Homo sapiens: one gene and its partners. The protein of the gene in region 1 purifies or fractionates together with the protein of each later gene. This does not show direct contact. Each region holds a gene or a part of one and is shown on either strand. Other genes may lie near its edges. The genes, in order: MOGAT2, DDI2 and HERC3.

Region 1 (3,652 bases):
CCCAAATCTATCACAACATCCCTGTGAAGATTACAGACCATGTATCTGATGCATCTGTGTCCCCAGTGCAGGCCTGGAACAGAGGAGATGCTCTGGAAAGGGTATAGCATGAAGGAAGGAAGGAATGAGCCCAATGGATGAGGCTGGTACAGCCTCAGAAGGAAGGCTCCCTGACCCCAATCCTATCCTGGCATGTCACCAGGGTTCCACTAGTGGGAAAAAGAACCTTGAGTCAGGAGACCCCGGTTCTGCCGCTGGCTCATCACATGACCATTGCCAAGCCCCTGTCCCCTCTGTGGCTCAATTATTTCTGTCCCACAGGACACTGATAACGCCTCCCTGGCAGGGTTGCTACAGGGTTCAAGGGGGGTAAACAAAGAAGAGGGGAGGTTTGTGAAGTGCTGTGGTCTGTCTCCCTCCCTCAGTTCTGTTAGGCGAGGGGAGTGTGACTAAGCGAAGATAGATGGCTGTCTGGGGAAAATCCTGCCTGGGTGCATGCCCTGGCAGGCTGGGTGTGCAGTAGGCAGTGGGGCCTGGAGAAGGGCACAGCCAGGTTACTAGGCTCTGGGGGCTGCTATTGCTTTTAGTTGATATAATTTATGCACCATAAAATGCATCCGTTTAAAGTATGACATTCAGGGTTTCAGTATATTTAAAAGGTGTGGGATAGGTGTGGTGGCTCACACCTCTAATCTCAGCATTTTGGGAGGCCAAGCAGCCTGGCAACACAGTGAGACTCCATCTCTACAAACATTTTTTTAAAAGTTGTGGTGGTGCGTGTCTGTAGTCCAAGCTACTTGGGAGGCTGAGGCAGGAGGATTGCTTGAGCCCAGGAATGAGGATCCCTACTGTCTCTTCACCCCATGATCCCTGCGGGGCCTGGGCAGTAAAGGCGTGTGGGAGGGTGGGAGGGTCTATGGAAAGAGCGTCTACAGGCCACAGCCCCACCCCACAGGCCCAGCTTAGGACATAGTCAAAATGAACATCATCTCGCCCTCTGCTGGCCACTCAGTGGCATTGTCACCCTCGGCAGATGGTGCTGCAAAGGGCCTGCGGTGAGGAAGGATCCTGGAAAAAAAAACAAAAAACAAAACAGTGCACAGAGCCAGGTGCAGTGTCTGACACCTGTAATCCCAGCACTTTGGGAGGCTAAGGTGGGCGGTCAGGAGTTCGAGACCAGCCTGGCCAACATGGTGAAATCCCGTCTCTACTAAAAAAATACAAATCAGCCGGGAGTGGTGGCGGGCACCTGTAATCCCAGCTACTCAGGAGGCTGAGGCAGGAGAATCGCTTGAACCTGGGAGGTGGAGGTTGCAGTGAGCCGAGATCACGCCACTGCATTCCAGACTGGGCAACAAAAGTGAAACTCCGTCTCGAAAAAAACAAAAACAAAACCAAAACAAAGAAACAAAAAGATGCACATAGAATTTCTGCAAATCGAGGCCTGTGTCCCACCAGTGTCAACAGTACTAAGGTTGAGATATCCTCCTCAAAAGCCACCTGGCTGGGGAAGGAGCAGGAAGGACGGACGTTGATAGGGTAGGCGCAGAGCTGCCTCAGCATTTCTGCCAGACCTGCAAATGGAAATGCTCCAGGTGCAAAGAGGGCCAGATGCTGTCCTTTGAGGCCATTGGGCTGGCTGAAGACACCCCGGGAGAACTTTCAGGTGAGCAGTCCCAGTCCTGCGGAATGTCCTCCAATGGCCTCCACCCTCTGACCTGAGGGCCTCCCCAGCCTCCTCTGCAGGCCTGCCTTCTGCTTTAGCCGCGCTGAATGTCAGGCTGTGGCTCAGAACTCACCCTGCGGCAAGTGTCTGGGCCTGTGCTTGTGTGTTTGCCTTTTCAGGCTGCTTTTCCTTTCCCCCCCGGTGAGCTTGGGATTCAGCTCAAGAGTGGGAAGTGAGACCAGAGCCAGAACCTCTGAAGCTCTCCCGGAGGCCAGAGCCTGCTTCAGGTTTTCTTTGGCTTGGTCCCTGATGTCACACACACGTCCCCAGGCTGGCCACAGCACACTTTCCCAGGGAAACTCTGACCTTCCTGGCACAGAAGAGGAAGCCCAGGCTGGAGAGAGGAGAGGCAGGAAAGGGAGGTGAATCTCAAAGTGCAGAGGTCCTGGGGTGGGGATGAGGACTCTGCCTCTGACACGTCCATGACTGCTCCCAGAACTCAGCAAGCCCTAAGTTTCTTTGCTGACAAGACCCAGGAGTGGGCCCTGCAGGAAACACATATGAGGTGCAGGGGAAACTGCCCCCATCCTGAGCCCCCCAGGCTAGACCATGTTCCGCCTTACCACATCTACCACCCTTCGTGAGCACGGCAGTCTCTGCCAGCCGCTGCCCGCTGTCTGCCCAGCACCCCCATTGCCCTTTGCCCTGGAGGCCCTGCTCACTGCAGTGCTAGAGGCTCCTGCATTCCAGCTGTGGCTCAGCCTTTGCTAGTCCTTCTTGGGCCCCTGGACTCTCAGAAGGGAGCAAGGCAGGAACCCCAACCACCCTGCGTTCCCATAATTCAGACAAGTTGCTTAACTTTGGTGGGTTTGTTTCCTCTACCCCTCCCCCTTTGCAAGCTGGAGACCTTGTTTCTGATGGGACAGGAAGAGGTAGGGTTCCCAGGCGGGGTGGGAGAAGTTACGTAGGTGTGGAGGTCAGAGCAGCAGGGCTTGGGCTCTCAGAGTCCTCCCCAGACTCGAGGTCACGACCACACTTCCTCAGAGTCCCACTGCCGAGGTAAAATAATACTAGCTACCTGTTTACTGAAAACCTACAAAGTGCTAGCCAGGCACAGTGGCTCACACCTGTAATCCCAGCACTTTGGGAGGCTAAGGTGGGCAGATCACCTAAGGTCGGGAGTTCGAGACCAGCCTGACCAACATGGAGAAACCCCGTCTCTACTAAAAATACAAAAATTAGCCAGGTGTGGTGGCCGGCACCTGTAGCCCCAGCTACACGGGAGGCTGAGGTAGGAGAATTGCTTGAACCTGGGAGGTGGAGGTTGCAATGAGCTGAGATCGTGCCATTGCACTCCAGCCTGGGTGACAGAGCGAGACTCCATCTCAAAAAAAAAAGAAAACCTACAAAGTGCTTTACTTGCTTTGTCTCATTGAATCTACACAACCCAGTGAGGTATGTGTCATTATCCCCATTTTACATATGAGGAAACTGAGGCTCAGAGAGACCAACTTACCTACGATCATACAGCTGATATGGTATGGGGCAGACTTGGGATCAGAATCTAGTCTGCCTGTCTCCACGGGCCATATCTTACCCCTTTCTTCTCTCCTGCTTCCAGAGGAGGGCCAACTGCCCCTGCCTGTCCCTTCTCTGCGTCCCCACTGCCTTCCCCATCCTATCCCTTCTGGCCAATAAACCATCACTGCCTGGCTGCATAGATCAAGGCTTTAAATTGCCTGGGATTCCGTTGAAGGAGCCGAAAGATCTGCTCACTCAAATCCAGGGATCTGCTCTGCTCTGGACACAACTTCAAGTCCAGGGCCCAGCGTCCACAATGACCACGAGGTGACAGGAGTCGGAAAGCCAGAGATTTGAAGGCATGCAGAGGAGGAGGAATCAGTGTACTTACTAGATACATGGGGAGACTGAGCCTCAGAACAGGATAAAGCTTTGCCCAAAGATATACCACATGCCAGAGTTAGG
Region 2 (3,652 bases), on another chromosome or scaffold:
AAAAAAAAGATAAAAAGAATAAGAAGTTTAAAAAAGCATGATTTAATTTCTAAGTTGATAGATAGTGTAATACAATGACCAAGTTAGGCTTCATTTAAGTAACCGGAATGATGACACGGTCCCTAAAAGGCCAAGCAGTCTAAGTGTAGTAAGTATCGTTGCTGTTATCTTCTTCTTAGTTATACTAAGTTCTTCACAATTAGCAACAAAAACTGACTTGAGGCAGGAAAAGCAGCTGTCCTTTTTTTCAGAGAATGACTGAACAGAATCTTGCTTGTGACTATCAGTGTGACTGAGGCCGGAACAGCGTCACTGTCCTTGCTTGAGCTCCATGCCCGACAATTCTGATTCATCAGATTTGGGAGAAGAGTCCAAGCATCTGCATTTTTAAAAGTTTCTCATGTGATTTTACTATAGCCCCAGGTGAGAACCACCGCATTACAGAAACTGAGAGCTGGAAACATGTCCAGCATTCAGTTTATCCACTGAGGCCAGTACAAGAAATGCAGCAGGAAAACAGACTTAGGACTACCAACGTTCCATCGGCGCAGAGCCCTCTCTAATCCAATCATGTTTAAGCCCTGGATTTAATCAGGACTTATACAATATGTCTAAAGAAAGAGAGTCAAATCAGCCCATGTAATATGCAACCAGCCTTGTGGTCTCACCAGATGGTGGCTTCTGCTCAGTCCGGGGGTCATTTATCTAAAGCTGTGTTATGATGCTCTGTCTGCTAGTCAGGGAGTCCTCCTTAAAATTTTAGAAAGAAAGTCATTAAACTAAGCACCTATATCTTTGTCATGTCAAATCGAAATGCATAGAAAATGAAAGAGGAGAGACTAACCTAAAAGACTGAGGTTACTATCTCAACTGCAAAACAGAGAAGCTACCTCCAAGCAGATGCCCAACCAATGTCAGATAACCTGCAGTCTGGGAAATCTGGAGTCTCTAAGTTTTGTTCTTTAGATGAACAGGTCTTTACCTTATATCTTCTTCTATCTTTGCCTGAGCTTCAAGGTCAAAGGGATCAGCAGAAAACAGACGAATCCTTTCTTGCTCTCTCCGGGCTCGGTCCTGCTGCTGCTCCACCAGGACTCTAGAAAATTTCTCTACAAAAATAAGGGAGAAAAATCTTAAATATCACTATATTTTCAACGTTTATCAGTACTTTTCCACACCAAACAATTTATCAAACTACATCTGTAAGAGATGCAGAGAGGATGCCTAAAGCTTATTTAAAATGAGCAATTACATTTACTTTCTGTTCTCTGAGTCAAGGCTATTTCATCATTTAAATTCAGTGTAAAGAAAGTATTTGTGGCTGGGTGTGGTAGCTCATGCCTATAATCTCGACACTTTGGGAGGCTGAGGTGGGAGGACCGTTTGAGCCTAGGAGTTCGAGACCAGCCTGGGCAACATAGCAAGACCTTGTCTCTACAAAAAATATAAAAATTAGTTGGGCGTGGTGGTGCATGCCTGTAGTCCCAGCTACTGTTGGATGGGGGTTCAAGGGTGGGGGGATGGCCTGAGCCCAGGAGGTCGAGGATGCAGTGAGCTGTGATCGCACCACACACTCCAGCCTGGGTGACATGGTGAGACCCTGTTTTTTTTTTTTTAAAAAAAAAAAAAAAAAAAGTATTTGCAAAAATTTTTTATAAGAAGTTATCTATCATATTGTTTCTACTCAGAGGTAACAACTTTCCAATTTAAAATGGTGGGGAGTGACCATGTGGCAGATCAATGTCTCCACTCCTCCATTCCTCATTGTTCTCATTATCCTACTACCTAGAAACAAAATACAGCATTATATAATCTCCTTTTCCTCTTCTAGTTTCATTTCTTTTATAACATGCCCTGCCTTAAGCCAGATACATTAAGTATAAACTATTTTTAGTCTACCTATATTTTGTGTGTGTTCTGATGAATTAATAGGCAGGAAAATTAGTAGAGAAAACACTGCTTGCTATAAGATGTATGTTACAACAAGAACCTATTTTGCAATTTCTTTTTTTTTGAGATGGAGTTTCGCTCTTGTTGCCCAGGCTGGGGAGCAATGGCGCAATCTTGGCTCACTACAACCTCCACCTCCCAGGTTCAAGTGATTCTCCTGCCTCAGCCTCCCAAGTAGCTGGGATTACAGGTACCTGCCACCACGTCCAGCTAATTTTTGTATTATTAGTAGAGACTGGGTTTCACCATGTTGGCCAGGCTGGTCTTGAACTCCTGACCTCAGGTGATCCACCGTGCCCGGCCTATTTTGCAATTTCTTAAATGGTGGTACATTTAAGTGTGCAAACTTAAATGCCCCATCATCACCATCTTTGGTGATTAGATATGCTGATATAAGAGATTAAAAGATATTATGACAATGGTTATCTGAACTACTAATGCACACAATACAGATGGATCTAAAAAGCATTAAGTTGAGTGAAAAGCCTAACACGAGCTGGGAGTGGTGGCTCACGCCTGTAATCTCAGTACTTTGGGAAGCCGAGACGGGTGGATCACGAGGTCAGGAGTTTGAGACCAGCCTGGCCAACATGGTGAAACCCAATCTCTACTAATAATACAAAAATTAGCCGGGTGTGGTGGTGCACGCCTGTAGTCCCAGCTACTTGGGACACTGAGGCGGGAGAATCGCTTGAACCCAGGAGGCGAAGGTTGCAGTGAGCAGAGATCGCGCCACTGCACTCCAGCCTGGGAGACAGAGTGAAACTCCGTCTCAAGAAAAAAAAAAACAAAGCCTAACACGAAAGAGCAGACACTCTATTATTCCATATACATGAAGTTTAAAAATACGGGAAACTAAACCATAAGATTATCAAAACAGTAGTAACCTATAAGGAGAGGAGATTGACTAGAAAGCAACACAGTGGAACTTTCTGGAGTGAGAGAAATGTCCTGTGTCTTGATTGGGGTTACAGGAGTTTGTCAAAACTCAAGGAATTGTATATTTAAAATCTGAGTACTTCGCTTAAGGTAAAGATTGCCAATTTAAAGACAGTCAATTGAGGAATGAGTCATTAAGTGTCTGTTATGTTTTTAGACTTAACCCAATTTAACTCATAAACCCAAGAGTAAAATGAGAGTAATTTACAGAGAAAACTCGATTCATAAAGATGGCTACAAGTTAGCTGGGTGCAACTGCTCATGCCTGTAATCCCAGCACTTTGGGAGGCCAAGGCAGGCAGACTGCTTGAGCCCAAGAATTCGAAAGCAGCCTGGACAACATGGCAAAACTCCATCTCTACAAAAAATACAAAAAATAACTTGGAGTGGACTGAGGTTATGGTGATTCCATTTTGCCATACAGGGCACTGAACCTTCCTGGCATCAGCTGGCATCAGCTGGCTTGTTGATGATCTCTTTAATTGAAGATCTAACTAAGGTTAAAATATCGGTACTGGCTGGGCATGGTGGCTCACACCTGTAATCCCAGCACTTTGGGAGGCCGAGGCAGGCGGATCACGAGGTCAGGAGATCGAGACCATCCTGGCTAACACGGTGAAACCCCGTCTCTAATAAAAATACAAAAAATTAGCCAGGTGTGGCAGCATGCGCCTGTAGTCCCAGCTACTTGGGAGGCTGAGGCAGGAGAATGGCATGAACCCGGGAGGCGGAGCTGGCAGTGAGCCAAGATTGCACCACTACA
Region 3 (3,652 bases), on another chromosome or scaffold:
AATGCCAACACACATCAAAAAAATCCATCTATTATTTAAAAGTAGTTAAACAAAAATAACATATGAAATAGCTTTAGTATTTTAAATTAAACTTCAAAATATCAAGACATTTAAAATTCAATTTCTAATAGCATTGTACCTCATACAATAAAAAAAATTCCACAAAAATCACAAAAGGCCATATACTAATTTCATGTAATTTTCCATATTTCTTTAATAACTATTATAGTTATTGAAGAGATGAGCATCTGTTATTCAAGATCTGATAAGATATTTATCAAATGTTAAAAGAAAGGAAGTTTAAAATATTGTAAAAGTTACTTAAATATCTCTACTCAGAGACTACTGTCATAATAATCTAGATTTTAACATGAGCAACTTCTTTTTCAGAGTAAAAAAGAATTACAATTTGTTAGACTTATTTTATTCAGCATCAAGTCACAGAAAGGGTAGATTAGAAATCAGAAGAATTGACTTTTACTGCTACTAATGAAATTAGTGGAAAAATTGTTTAACTTCCATTTCCTCATCTAGAAACAAAGCAGTTGGACTAAATAATTCATCAGGCTTATTTTTCTGCTCATAATGTTATTATTCAGTGAATAATTATTCATAAATTGATAAAACAGAAGGGCTTATTTTTTAATAATTCCTAAATTTGAAAGTGAAAACAGAGTTCATTACTAGCCTCCATGTTAAATTTCCCAAGTCAGCCCATTTAGAACACTCTAACTCATTTATATTAAAAAGTATTTTCCTGGCCAGGCACAGTGGCTTACCCCTGTAATCCCAGCACTTTGGGAGGCCGAGGCTGGTGAATCACTTGAGCTCATGAGTTCAAGGCCAGCTTGGGAAACATCACAAAACCCCATCTCTACAAAAAATACAAAAATTAGCCAGGCATGATGGCACGCACCTGTAGTCCCAGCTACTCGGGAGGCTGAGGTGGGAGAATGGCTTGAGCCTGGGAAGCAGAGGTTGCAGTGAGCCAAGATGGTGCCACTGCACTCCAGCCTGGGTGATAGAGCCAGACCTTGTCTCAAAAAAAAAGTATTTTGTTTTCTCAGGGTAATCATAAAATCTTATTTAAAAATAAAACATTGTATGCATTTTTTAAGTCTCTAGAGAAAAAAATACAACATTGTGTCTAGCATTCATCATCTATTATTTGACAAAGAAAACAATCCTTCTTGTTCAGTTAGATCAGCCTATTTAAATGTCTTGCTTTTGGAGACAACTGCTGACTTCCAAAAACCCCACAGGAAAAATATTGCCCTAATACTGGTGATGAACCTGCTACACTGGCAAGGACTCACCTCAAATCTGCTGCACATGGCTTCACAAAATACAATAACCAAATTATCATTCTGTTTTCTGACCTAACTCAAATTTGCACATACTCCACAGATGGGAGATCCTAAAGAGCCTTGCATATATCCCAAGCTGGTGTGCTATCAAAAGGAGCAGTTCCTGCCACGCCAGAGGTGGTAGGCAGGAATCCACAGGCCCCTGAATGGCATATCTAAAATACGGTGAGACAGCACTTGGTCAGGGATGTGTGACACTTTCACACACATAATTCTCAATCAGAAGGGGCCTACGGGGTCCAGGTAGCTGACATATGATGACTGGAGTAGGCTGTCAGAAGATGATAATTAGCAAATGACCCTTCCTCAATGTCAGGGATAAATTACGCTGCAGTGGGAATTGTGGCATATACATAAGCCTCATCTAAAGAGTCACTCTTGAACTCCAGCCACTTGGTGTCATATGGGAAGACAGGTCGTGTTGCCAGATCTTCCAAGTTTTGAGGAAAGCTAAAAATTCATATTTGTATGTGTCTTGTTTTTTTAATTATGGTTTAAAAAAAAACCTAACATAACATGTACCATCTTAAGCATTTTTAAGTGTACACTTTCAGCAGTGTTAAGTATAGTCACACTGGTGTACAATTGGATCTCCAAACTTTCTTATCTTGCAAAACTGAAGCTATACTCATTAAATAGCAACTCTCCATTTTCCCCTGCCTCCAGCCCCTAGCAATCACCACTGTACTTTCTGTTTCTGTGGATTTGACTACTTTAGATACTCTGATTTTTTTAAAGGGGGCAACTGATAAAATGTGTAACATTCTGGGTGACTACTCATTTATGACTCCTTATAACATTGATGATTACTTAAAGCACTTCCAAGTTTCTAGAATGCAAAAGGCCAGCTGGATGAAGAATAGGTGACACACTGACATCAAAGTCAAAGACATATTATACAGCTCACATGTGCTTTTCTTATAAAAAGACTAAAGCTTTAAAATATGCTTTATGAATTCTTACCATCCCTGCTTGATGCAAGAACCACATGAGGTAGTCTTCCTGAATGTCCACGAGATTGGAAATCTCAGGAATGTAAAATGTATCATATTCCACATGCTTCACTTTAAGATTTACCTAATGAAGAACAAAATACAGACAACTGAAACATGGCTTCCCAGAGAACATCTCACTAGGACATTTTACCCTACCATCTAATCACCCCCTCCCCACTAGCACCTCCTATGCTCACCTTATATAACTTCTCCAAGAGTTTGAGAGCTGCTGTGATATAATTGTTAAACAGTACGGGAATTAAGAATGTCTTTCTTCCCCTCAGTAGATAAAGGACTGCACCTTTATAGAGGTTTACCAGCTTCATGAAATATTTCGGGCATACCTGAGACCACCAGTTATCTTTAGAAAGAAAGAAAAGACATATTTCAACATGTAATCTTGGGCAAGTATTTATGTCTTCTGCCTGCCAGTTAAAAATTGCTTTGTCTAGAAGATAAACATTAGTCTAAAATACATTTTCCCAAAACTGACTTTAAAAAGAATCCATTAAAACCTTTTTGGGGAGAACAACAGCTGTAAAAGAATCCCTGGAGCTTTTTTTGTAAAGCCTGGTCTGATTTTTTGCAAAGACTCAATCTGAAGGTTAACTTAAAAGTCCAATTCCAGACTACATGTGGACAAGATACACATATTTTGGGCAGGAGTGATGCCCAATGTATTAATCCAAAAAGCATTCTTATGTCCTAGCGCTTTCAGCCATCACTAAATCCTGAAGCAGAAATGCAAAGGATGACGCACCACATACCCTAGAAGCAGCACCAATATGGCAACCATTCCCTTCCCTTTAAGAGGTATCATTAGTTGAAAAACTACGATTTTTACTTCTCACCAAAAAATGCTTTCTCATAACCAGACAAGAAGATATACCACTGGCTTATACTTCGTTGGAAATAAACTCAGCCATACTGAAATACTTAAAGAATGAAATAGTATGTCTGAGATTTCCTTTAAAATACTCCAACAAAAAATAAAAAGGTGGTGAGGGCGAGGGACAGATGAAATAAAATGGGCAAAATACTGACAACTGCTGAATTTGTGTGGTGACTACCTGTAGCATACTCTCTACTTTGGGGTATTCTTTTAAATATCAATAATTAGAAGTTAAAAATAAAGTGTAAAATTGAACAATTATGTTCTCTTTGTATTTTCCAGCCTGGAAAAATAAAAATGAAAAAACTCTAAAACTTGAAAGTCAGGTAAGATTTCTTCTGATATTGCCACCTCTCTGTTTCACATCAACTAGAACACCTGAGAAAATGTGCCCCCAA

What was found.
Region 2: the proteins of MOGAT2 (region 1) and DDI2 purify together in Homo sapiens (affinity purification with mass spectrometry; one large-scale study listed by BioGRID and IntAct). This does not show direct contact.
Region 3: the proteins of MOGAT2 (region 1) and HERC3 purify together in Homo sapiens (affinity purification with mass spectrometry, with the first as the bait; one large-scale study listed by BioGRID). This does not show direct contact.

Annotation. Positions count from the first base shown.
Region 1 is NC_000011.10:75,720,702-75,724,353, reverse strand, and holds part of MOGAT2 (2-acylglycerol O-acyltransferase 2), read right to left. Parts: intron 1-3,652.
Region 2 is NC_000001.11:15,630,896-15,634,547, reverse strand, and holds part of DDI2 (protein DDI1 homolog 2), read right to left. Parts: intron 1,110-3,652; coding exon 983-1,109; intron 1-982. UniProt on the Homo sapiens protein: Aspartic protease that mediates the cleavage of NFE2L1/NRF1 at 'Leu-104', thereby promoting release of NFE2L1/NRF1 from the endoplasmic reticulum membrane.
Region 3 is NC_000004.12:88,668,931-88,672,582, reverse strand, and holds part of HERC3 (probable E3 ubiquitin-protein ligase HERC3), read right to left. Parts: intron 2,724-3,652; coding exon 2,560-2,723; intron 2,445-2,559; coding exon 2,331-2,444; intron 1-2,330. UniProt on the Homo sapiens protein: E3 ubiquitin-protein ligase which accepts ubiquitin from an E2 ubiquitin-conjugating enzyme in the form of a thioester and then directly transfers the ubiquitin to targeted substrates.